2 linked regions of the Homo sapiens genome follow. The protein of the gene in region 2 purifies or fractionates together with the protein of the main gene of each other region. This does not show direct contact. Each region holds a gene or a part of one and is shown on either strand. Other genes may lie near its edges.

Region 1 (5,305 bases), on a different chromosome or scaffold from region 2:
AGTTGTCAAATAAAACATAGGATCCCCAATTACATTTAAATTGTAGGTAAATAACACATAATTTTTTAGTACAGGTATGTCCCATGCAGTACTTAGACATATTTCCACCAAAAATTTAGTGCAAGTATATAATACTTATATTAAAAGTTAGTCATTGATCTCAAATTCAAATTTAACTGCCATCTTGTATTTTTATTACCTGACAAGACTAATTGTGTAACTGGATGATAAAACTGAGTCTTTGGTGGGGGGGGGTTTCTTGTATTTGCACAGGTGATGATGAACAGAGTGACTGGTTCTACGAAAAGGAATCAGGTGGAGCATGTGGTATCACTGGAGTTGTGCCCTGGTGGGAAAAGGAAGATCCTACTGAGCTAGACAAAAATGTACCAGATCCTGTCTTTGAAAGTATCTTAACTGGTTCTTTTCCCCTTATGTCACACCCAAGCAGAAGAGGTCAGTAGCACTGGCTCCCTGGTAGATATAATGGGTTTAAGGTCAGTCTAGGAATATTCATTCAAGGAGGATAAGATAAAGTGGAAATTAGAGAATGTAAACACAAGATGCTGTAAAGAAACATATTGGCCACTAATATAGCTACTACATTTATCATGCTTTCAAATTATTAGAAAAATTGACTTGCTTTCTTGCTAGGCTCATTGAGAAAATGTTGAAATGATAAGAATGTTAATTCGGAAAAAAGAAAATGGGTATTTATTACTCTAGTGATTGAACACTGGTTAGTTAAGTGCTGACTGCCTTAGTACTTTGCTAGGCATTGCTTCAGTTTTTTTAAGTGTGAGTTTTGCATTTTCCCAAATAATATTCGTGGCATTCACCGCCACCACCAACTTACTTTTCTTTCTCTATTGATAGGATCCTCTTCTTCTTCTATGCTTCAGTGATCATAGAAAACTTCTAAATTGAGTACTTTGATTTTACAGGTTTCCAAGCTAGACTCAGTCGCCTTCATGGAATGTCTTCAAAGAATATTAAAAAATCTGGAGGGACTCCAACTTCAATGGTAGGCATACTTTTTCTGTGTAATTGTCATGTTTGGAAATGTTTCCATTTCTATGGAATAAAAAGCCACATCCTCATCCTTTATTCATATTCTAATGTTAAACTTAAAAATAATCCATTTTTTTGTAGGCTACAAACTGGACCAGTGAGATTCCCCTATAAACCAAATCTTCTAATGCTAATAAATTAGTTACGTTTTGAACATCTGGGGAATGACATTCGAGGGAACCTGGCTCCTGTCCTCTTCCCTGGAGGAATATCATTGAAGTGAGAGCCTCTTTGATGAAAAGATGGGGCTGTTTTTGCTGGAGGACTGGTATTCTTCCTTTTAGTCAGAAGTGAACCTGACTGGGGAGGCTTTCTAGGGATTTAGGTTGGCCCAGGGTGGATAGAAACTACTGTAAATTATATATTTTTCTCTTTTATGGTTTTTTTTTTACATTGAATCCATTTATGTATACTTGCTTTGCCAAAATGCTAACAAAGCTAGAAAATTTTAAACTTCCAGATCGACAAGTATTCCTTAATGTTTATATTGTGACTGATTAAGAATTAATTTTTACATATCTGACTGTTGTAAATAAAAATCATGATGCATTGACATTTATGGTTCATTTTTAGAGAAGTCTTATATAACCAGCATTATTTAAAATATTTGCATTTTACTCAGGGTATTTTAACAAGGGCTAAGATGAGTAGTAGGTAAGGTTGATAATCTTTGCTGGAGTTTGTATTTTGTTCAGCTTCCTTTCTACTTGGGTAATCTGCTTGTATTGCAAACTCATTGTATTTTATAGTATAGCTTTCATTGTACTGCAAAAATCATCCTCGTTTTAAATTAGCCACAGTGATAACTAGTCTGCACTAGTAGAATCATTTACCTTTTAAATTATCTGCTTTGTCTGATACCTGAAACACATCAAAATTATTATTTTGGTTTAGAGCTTAATGAAACATGTGAAAGCTGGTATTTTTAACAAATGCTGTGTGATTCTGAATCATATTGTCATGTTTAAAAGTGAGAGCTGCTTGTACATCTTTAGAATGGCAGACCATATGTGTCACTGTGAGTGTCAGAAATACTTGCATGAGCTCATTTTCACCAACTGGGGGGAAAATGTAATGTTTCTATTGATGGTATAATTTAGACACTATAATAAGTTCAGCCATTTGAGTTCTTCAAAATGGTTATATTAAAATGATATTTTTATTAAGCTTCAATAATGAAAAACAATGTGATTTAATATGTGTATTTTTATATTATTGTATGGATTAATTGTTAATTCAGCATTTAATGGCTAACTTAAATATGATTGGAAAAGAAACTTCAAGTTGCCATTGCTTTTACCTAAAGTTTTTAAAGTCTGAAAGATTTCAGCAAATGCATTAAACAGGAATGTGTGACATCTTCTTTTAGATTGCTTGTCTAATTTGGAGAGATTAAAAATGGTAAAATGCAACTTTGAGTCTCTTTACCTTTGCATATTTAAAGGTACAATAGTGTGGTGTTGGTAATTGTAAGTAAGCTTTTCTGTGCTATGTCTTTGGAGTGAAAATTCATGTTTTTTTTCTGAATTACATAAATGCTTTTGTTTTATTTTGTATAATGACTGTCTTTTAGATCTGAATAAGTCACTTTAAAACCTTGGCCTATGAACTTTGCCTTATCAATCATGAATCTAGATGAATGCTATCTAGTTCTTGGTTCAGTTTTACCTATTTTTATTTTTGGTTCACTGCTTGCTTGAGCATAGCTGGGATTTGTAGCCCATTTTCTAGGCTTATTGCAATCTCACTGTGGTATTTTATAGAAGCTATTACAACTGATAGGCTAGCTTCATGGTATTGATGATACATGGCTTAACCATACTAAAAGCTGCTTTCCCTCTCTAAATTGTAAAAAGGTGATGAAGTTTCACTTGATGGAGACATACTATATATGTGTGTTTATCATGGAACTAGTGCATTAGGCCATAAGCTGTTTTTCTGGTCTATGTTTTTTGTATTTAAAACTTTACTGAAGACAATGGACTCCTTCGGGTTTTCTTTCTTTCAACCCTGAATTGTCCTTGTTTGAATTTTTAAGTACTGTAATTTTTTTTTTTCAATAAAATCTCTGACTTGGGCAAGAAAGGTAAGAGTTCCAATTTGTGCTGCTATTTCTCTGATTTCATTTGCTAAGTTTTCATTGTTGTTGTTGTTGCTTATGCTGTTTATATTATGTATAACTATAATATCTAGTTTTAAAAATCATAATCTCACAAAACAGTCATCTTTACACAGTATCCATGACATCTGGTAATAAGAAGTGAAATTTAATTGCCTTAAACTTTCACACTGGAAAGCCAGATTGTTTTTAAGAGAGATTAATTTTCTGAGCAAAGTAAAACACATGGAGCTGCAACCCATTAAACAGAAGGCCAACAAAAGGTTTCTTAAGCAGATGAATGATGACTGCATAAATATAATGATGTAGTATCTTTGAAGGAAATGACAGAGGAAGAATCTTTTACTGAAATATCAATGTAAACATTTTTTGGGGGAAAGTTTTCAGTTGTATTATAGTTGATTCTGACTATTTGCCATAACTGTATTCTATACACTTGCTGAAAACATTGAATTAGGGAATACTGAATCATGGCTCCTAAGGGAAAGACAGGGTTAGGTTCCTGGAAGCCTCTGGTCACAACATTTTCACCAACTGATCAATAGATAACCTTGTTTTGTTTATGTTTGTGTTTAGAGACATTTAATATATATTGTTGACTTACTAACATCGAACTCATGGCCAATAGCACTATAACTTACGGCTGAACAAAGCTTATCAAGTCTTTTCTCTATAAGGCACATCCCAGCCTTCTTGCACTTAGGAGCACTAGACGGCATTTCTCAGCACTATACAAGGGGCTATTTAAAACAGAATAATCACCCACAAAAAGCACAACAATTCAAAAAAAAATCTGGTACTAATTTAGACTACAAAAGGGACATATGTTTACAGTATGATAGTTTAAACGAGTAGGAAGAAAGTCACCTGACTGACCTCTGGTAGGAATGCACGTGTATGTCGGGCAACTCAACATTTTTCACTGCTCTGTACATGTTACTGAATGACTACAAAAGTCAGAAATTGTGAGTATTGATTTTGGGGTTAACAAATAAATTTTAGCAGGCAGGCCGACTTAAAAATATGGAATCCACAATGGGAACGAGATTGACTGTATTTAGTTTTATAGAGAGCAAAGTGATATTGCAGAAAATTTATAGATTTTGAAGTCAGACCTTTGTGAATCCACACTCTGATTCTTCTTTTTAGTTGTAGTTAGATTTTGAACCTCCTTCCCTCCTTTTGTTTAATACCAACAATACTTACTTTTGCATAAGTGTCGTCAGGTTTTTAAATGAGATTGTGTATGCATAATGGGCCCAGCACCATCTCTGGTGCATAATATATATTAAATAAATGATTGTTACTATTATTAGATATATTAAACACAATAGCTGGGACTTAGAGAACATTTGTATCATGAGTCAAAGTGCAGAATTGTGGACCTTAAACTTTTCTGGTATTTCTTTTTTTTTGAGATGGGTCTTGCTCTGTTGCCCAGGCTGGAGTGCAGTGGCACAATCAAGGCTCACTGCAGCCGTGACCTCCCAGGCTCAAGCAATGCTCCCACCCCAGCCTCCTGAGTAGCAGGGTCTACAGGCGTGCACCAACATGTCTGGCTAATTTTTATATTTTTAGTAGAGATGGGGTTTTGCCATGTTGTCCAGGCTGGTATCAAACTCCTGGGCTCAAGCCTCTCAGAGTGTTGGGATTACAGGCGTGAAGCACCGCAACTGGCTTGTTCATATTTTATATAAAATTTGCCTTTACATTTAATATTTAAAGCACTTTATATGGCATTCTTTTATGTTTCTTTTATACCTCTTTTATATTTGAACTGGCCTCTTTCTTTAATATGGTCTGTGAATCATAGTTTCAAATAAATTTTAGGTTGACAGCCACTCCACTAAATCTCAAAACTTAATTGCAAACTGAGAAACTGCTCTAAACTCTTCTCCTGACCACAGAGCACATAGGCCTTCTCCCTCCATCATTTAAGCTAAATGAATAGCTTAAATGATGGAGGGAGAAGGCCTAATAGCTATTCCTGAACCTATACTGTTCAGGAGATTTGGGTCCTGATCTATTTAACCTATCTGATTTTTTAAATTAATTATGCTCATGTGCATGCAAACAGAGTCCTGAGATTTTTGTGTTGAGAGGAATTACTGTTGC
Region 2 (5,305 bases):
CGATGGTAGCTAACTTGAAATTTTTATTCCAGCCAAAAAGAGTGTATTAAGAGAAATGTGTATTTGTGCAATACTGTAATTGGTGCATCTTTCACATTTTATGCTGCCGTGTACAAACTTCTTCCCCCAACAGATTCAAATCTAATTCTAGGAAGACATTCTCAAATGTATGTATATATAATACTTTTCTAGTAGAAACTCTTTAAAGATAGAGTCATATTGCGTGACTCAGTTGAGGGTTCAAGAGTTCTCTATCCCATACCCAGATCTAATGGCCTGTTTAATCTTGAATCCCATCGCCAACACTTGACAACTTTCACATTACCTCTAGCATTTGACAGCCTTTCTTAGAGCATTTGTCCAGCATCCAGAAAGTTGAACTTCAGCTATTTACAAATAAGATCAATTTATTTTTGCTTCCTTATTTACAACTTTGCATCACTCCCTGTCATACAGGGTAAAGAAGAGAGGAAAATACATCAGTTGACCTGAGGTTCAATTCATGATCTAATTTCAGCGATTTTTGTGCACCATGTACTTAACATTGTCTCAAAGATTTGGGTTGGTACGCAGTCCGAGCAGCTCTGACGGAATTTGTGCCTTGCGTATCTTAAGGGCTTGAGATTCTTAAATGAGTTAAAATGTTTAGTATTTAGAGGAGTGGTTCACAAAGTTTGCTGCACACTAGAATCACCTGACATACTTTCTGAACATACTCATCCTGAGATGGCACCGCATACCAATGAAATTAGAATATTGGGGTGGAAGAAAAAAGCATATATGTTTCCTTTAGAGGTCCCTATGTACAGCAGTGTTTGGAAACCACTGATTTAGACTCTTGATAGTCAAAATGTGGTTTGCAGACAAATTTTTTAGAACTGCAGAATCTCCATATTTACTCCAGGTCTATTGAGTCAGAATTAGAATTTTGACAAAGTACCTAGGCAATTTGTATGCACATTAATGTTTGAGAAGCATGATTTGGAGTGAGGAAACAGGCTTTTTCCTTCCTTTCCTCCTTCCTTCCTTCCTTCTTTCCTTCCTTCCTTTCTTCCTTCCTTCCTTTCTTCCTTCCTTCTTTCCCTCTTCCCTCCCTTTCCCTTCCTCCCTTTCTCCCTCCCTTTTCCCTTCCTCCCTTTCTTCCTTCCCCCTCCCTCCCTTCCTCTCCTCCCCTCCCCTCCTTCCTCTCCTCCCCTCCCCTCCTTTCCTCTTCCCTCCTTTCTCCCCTATTCTCCCCTCCCCTTTCCTCTCCTCTCCTCTCCTCTCCTCTCTCTCTCTCTCTCACACACACACACACACTCTCACCTCCCACTGACCCCCACCTATATCACATTTTTCTTTGTCTAGGTAGATTTCCAGCCTCAAGCTGGCATACTACCTATAGAAACACCTGTAGAGCTTTTCAAATGTAAAGATGCTTAGGCCATACCCCTAATAATGTGAGTTTAATTAGTTCTGGGGTGGGATCTGGGCATAAGTAGTTTTAAATGGCTCCCAAGTGATGCTAATGGATGGCCAGAGTTAACCACTGATGTAGGGCATTACTGCTGGTGGTCCACAGACCAGCAGCATTTGCATCACCTGGGAGCTTGTTAGAAATGCAGAATCTCAGTCCCTACACCACATCTACCAAATCAAATCTGGATTTCAACAAAATCTAATGGTCATTTCTATGCACTTTAACATTTAAGAAGCACTGGTGTAGATCTCAGGGAACTGATTGCACCTGAGAATGAATGACACCACTCCAGGCACCTCAGTAGAGAAGATTTGATATTATCTGTCTAATCATTATGAAGGCTCATGGATATGTGATCATGTTCTAGGTCTTCTGGTTGTTTTTGGATACAACAAAAATGAAATGAAAAAGAAACTGCGTGATCTAACTCATAGTTAGATCAGAAAACAAACTTACTTTTAAATACCCTTGCTGCTCATCCTCCAATCACTTACTTTCAACCCCCAATTACCCTAAATATTTATTCTCTACATTCATTTTAAGCTCCTGACAAAGTCTGCTGTTAACTCATGGTAATGTGATGATATTTGACTACTTAAATCAAGGCACTTCTAAACAGAGTGAATATAGTTTTATCCTTTTCTATTGTCATACCTCTCTGTTCAACCCTTTTGAGATTCCTATGACCTAAGTACTCGTTTGTCCCTCACATACTGCGTTTCTTACAGTCAACATTGTAATTTTTGTGCTTTTTATTTAAACAAATATTTATTGAGCATCTGATATGTACCCAATGTGCTTATTTCTGAGAATGTGAAAGAAAACTAAGATGCAATCTCTGAACTTGACAATTTCACTCTTCTATCTTCACTAATATATTAACCTTCTCGTGGGCAAAATCTGAGCCTTTAACATTCCAGCAACCACCTAAGTGTCTATCTCAGGTAGAATATTTAAGTTTGCATAGTAGGGATTCGAATTATATGCGTTGGATAGCCTTAATTAGTTTTTTTAGGCCAACTTCATGGATCCAGAAGATTGTAAGTTGGGAGAAGTGTGGGAAACTTAGCTACCAGGAGGGCTCCCAGAAACATCAGTGTGATTCCAGAACATGGAAGGGAGTAATTTGACCCACTCTCTCAAGAGAGACCTGCACATGTATTTCCAAGGAAGATTCAATTCTTTGTTCTAGATTTCATACCAGCCATCAGAGTTCAGTCAGGGCCATGAACCAACACACTTAAGGTATAGAACAGTCATTTCTCTGAAGCCAGGATGATTTACTCTGCAGCAGAGAAAGGAAATGTCTATGCAATCATTAGTATATCAGAACTGGAAAGCGATTTTAAGAAGAGCCATTTTGTGGTTAAACAATAACAACAACAATAATAAAAGACTGAGCCAGTATAGTGAGATAAGTAAAACATAATTCAGTAAAATCATGATGTATAGTCACTGAGTGTAGGAAATACAGTTTCTTACTCCACCTGTCATGGTGTAAATTTGGACAAATCTTTTCCTCTTTGGGTCTCAAGATTCTTAAATATCAAAGGGGGTCCAGTTCATTTAATTTAAAATACCGAGTTGCCACATTGTTCCAGGCACATTATTAAATGTGGGGGACAGAGGTATAAATAGTTTATTGACTTGCCCTCTAAAAGCTTACAATGTAGGGATATATGAACAGGATCAAGAGCTGTTGATTTCTAGCATTTTATGTGTCTTCTCCATTCATCTTTCAGAGTTCTAGTAGGTTATCCGGGAGGCTAGAATATAAAGTCTTACAGTGATTAATGAGCTCCAAAGAGGCACTTAACATTCCACAGCAATAATTCCTGCCTTTTGTTTCCCCTTTGGTTTATTTAAACAAAATTATTGTGTGGGAGAACATTTGAACTCAAGCTATGTATCTACTATAAAAGCTATTCCACCTGACTAGCTACCTGCCTAACCTGTTTCTTGCTTTAGGTTATTATGAGGCTTGTTACCCTCAGTAATAGGTCTGGGGGAGGCCAACCTACTTGCCATTCCCTTATCCTTTTTCTTTTGTGCTTTTAAGTTTTTGAAGTACCAACCTTATTAGGTTTGGTGTTTTGTGCTACTGATTGACCAATAATGGTTTATTGCATCTCTTAATATTGGGTTTCCTGATTTGTCACATATTTACACCCATAAATAACGTTCGTGAAACACTTTGTACTTTTTCAAAAGGCTTTTAATATATACAATCTCCCTTAAAACCCTGTGATTTGGCATTTTAACTTTATTTTATAGATAACAAAACAAAGGATCATAAAGACTAAATGACTTAGGCAACTCATCTTACCTCTGTTTCTCTGCAAAATAAAAATTCTTATACCCATCCCAAGTGCTGTACCATAATATCATGATTATGAAATAAAACTCATGCTAATAAAGTATTTAGAACTCTTTAGAATTATAATCTGACTTTCATCATTTTTAGCTGTATCTCTCTTTACACTAGACTGTGAGATCCTGGATGGTAGAAATTGGTCCTCTGCCATTTTTGTAGTTTTAGCAGCAAGTATACTGCACGACACTCAATAAATCACCCTTCATTAACTCCCACAAAAACTTCACTTTACCAAAAGGGATTTCTTGTGTGCTTATTCTACAGTTTTAATAGTAACGTCTCCAACACCTGAATTTGTCTCTACATCTTATGGGTTTGGGGATGGAGATATATTGAGTCAAGTATTACACCTTGGATGGGTTTAAAACATAAACTGTGTAAATTCTGGCCACTAACAATGGTCTTAATCGGGGTACATCTCAGAACCACCAGACATCCTGTAATACCTGCAAGTCAGATATTTAAGAAACACTCAGGTGATGATGTATGTCCTCAATTATGAATCCATCGATAAGCTCCAAGATGGTTACTAGGAAACTATAACACATACATGTGTTCTTTATCAGGAGCACTATAGGACTTCTACTGCCTGGGCCTTGTCTTTTATTACCACCCTCTTTAGTGTTAAGAGAGTGTGTGTAGAAGAGAGATTTCATTTCTGTACTACAGACTTGGGATTGAAAATAGATATGCAAAATAGATGGCAAGAGTTTGAGGCTAAGATGACATGCCATTTTCCCCAGCATCATCTTCCTCATCTCCTTATTAGCATCCTTGCATGCAGAGCACGGTAGGATTTTTTAAGGATCTATGTCAATAGTTCTAATTTTAGCTTTCTCATCTCTCCAGTTACTTTTTGAAATAGTCTCTGTCTCCTTGTCTTTGGGAATGTGAGACTCCCACCCAGGGAGGCCGTGGTATTTAACTGCTGCGATGCTGCTGATGGCACCTAGGCAGAAGTCCCAAAGGACACCTGTTGCCCCTTCACAGATCTTTTCTTTTTTCTTTAGCGCATACTCTGCCTGGCTTTTTACCTGAAACAAGCCCCATTACTAATGATTGAAAAAGCACACATAATTGAAAGTGGGACTTTAAACTACGTGATAGAAGTAAAGGCATGCTGCCATTCTGTGGTTAGGTTTTTGTTTCTTTCTTGTTTGTGGATTGGCCATTAGCCTGAGAAGCAACCCAAAGGGACTAGACTGCAGAAAAAGAATCCAGAAACTTTCAGAGGCTGTTCAGAAGATAACTAAATGCACCAAAGAGTCCTTTACCAAGCAGGCAGGAAGAGGCAGCAATGCCAATCTCTCCCTACCTCATTCACTTCTACAATTATCACCCACGTGAAACAGGTTTTCCTCGAATCCTCCAGTACTGATAGCACTCTAACAGATTGAACAAACCTCAACACAGGTAATTTGGGAAATTTCTTTTCAGATACTTGGGAACTGAAAAATCTAGATATGCTTCCT

What was found.
Region 1: the proteins of FGF12 (region 2) and GPATCH2 purify together in Homo sapiens (affinity purification with mass spectrometry; one large-scale study listed by BioGRID and IntAct). This does not show direct contact.

Annotation. Positions count from the first base shown.
Region 1 is NC_000001.11:217,606,040-217,611,344, reverse strand, and holds part of GPATCH2 (G patch domain-containing protein 2), read left to right. Parts: intron 1-273; coding exon 274-456; intron 457-944; coding exon 945-1,024; intron 1,025-1,152; coding exon of another isoform or gene 1,153-1,185; exon of another isoform or gene 1,186-3,156; intron 3,157-5,305. UniProt on the Homo sapiens protein: Enhances the ATPase activity of DHX15 in vitro.
Region 2 is NC_000003.12:192,719,841-192,725,145, reverse strand, and holds part of FGF12 (fibroblast growth factor 12), read left to right. Parts: intron 1-5,305. UniProt on the Homo sapiens protein: Involved in nervous system development and function. Involved in the positive regulation of voltage-gated sodium channel activity. Promotes neuronal excitability by elevating the voltage dependence of neuronal sodium channel SCN8A fast inactivation.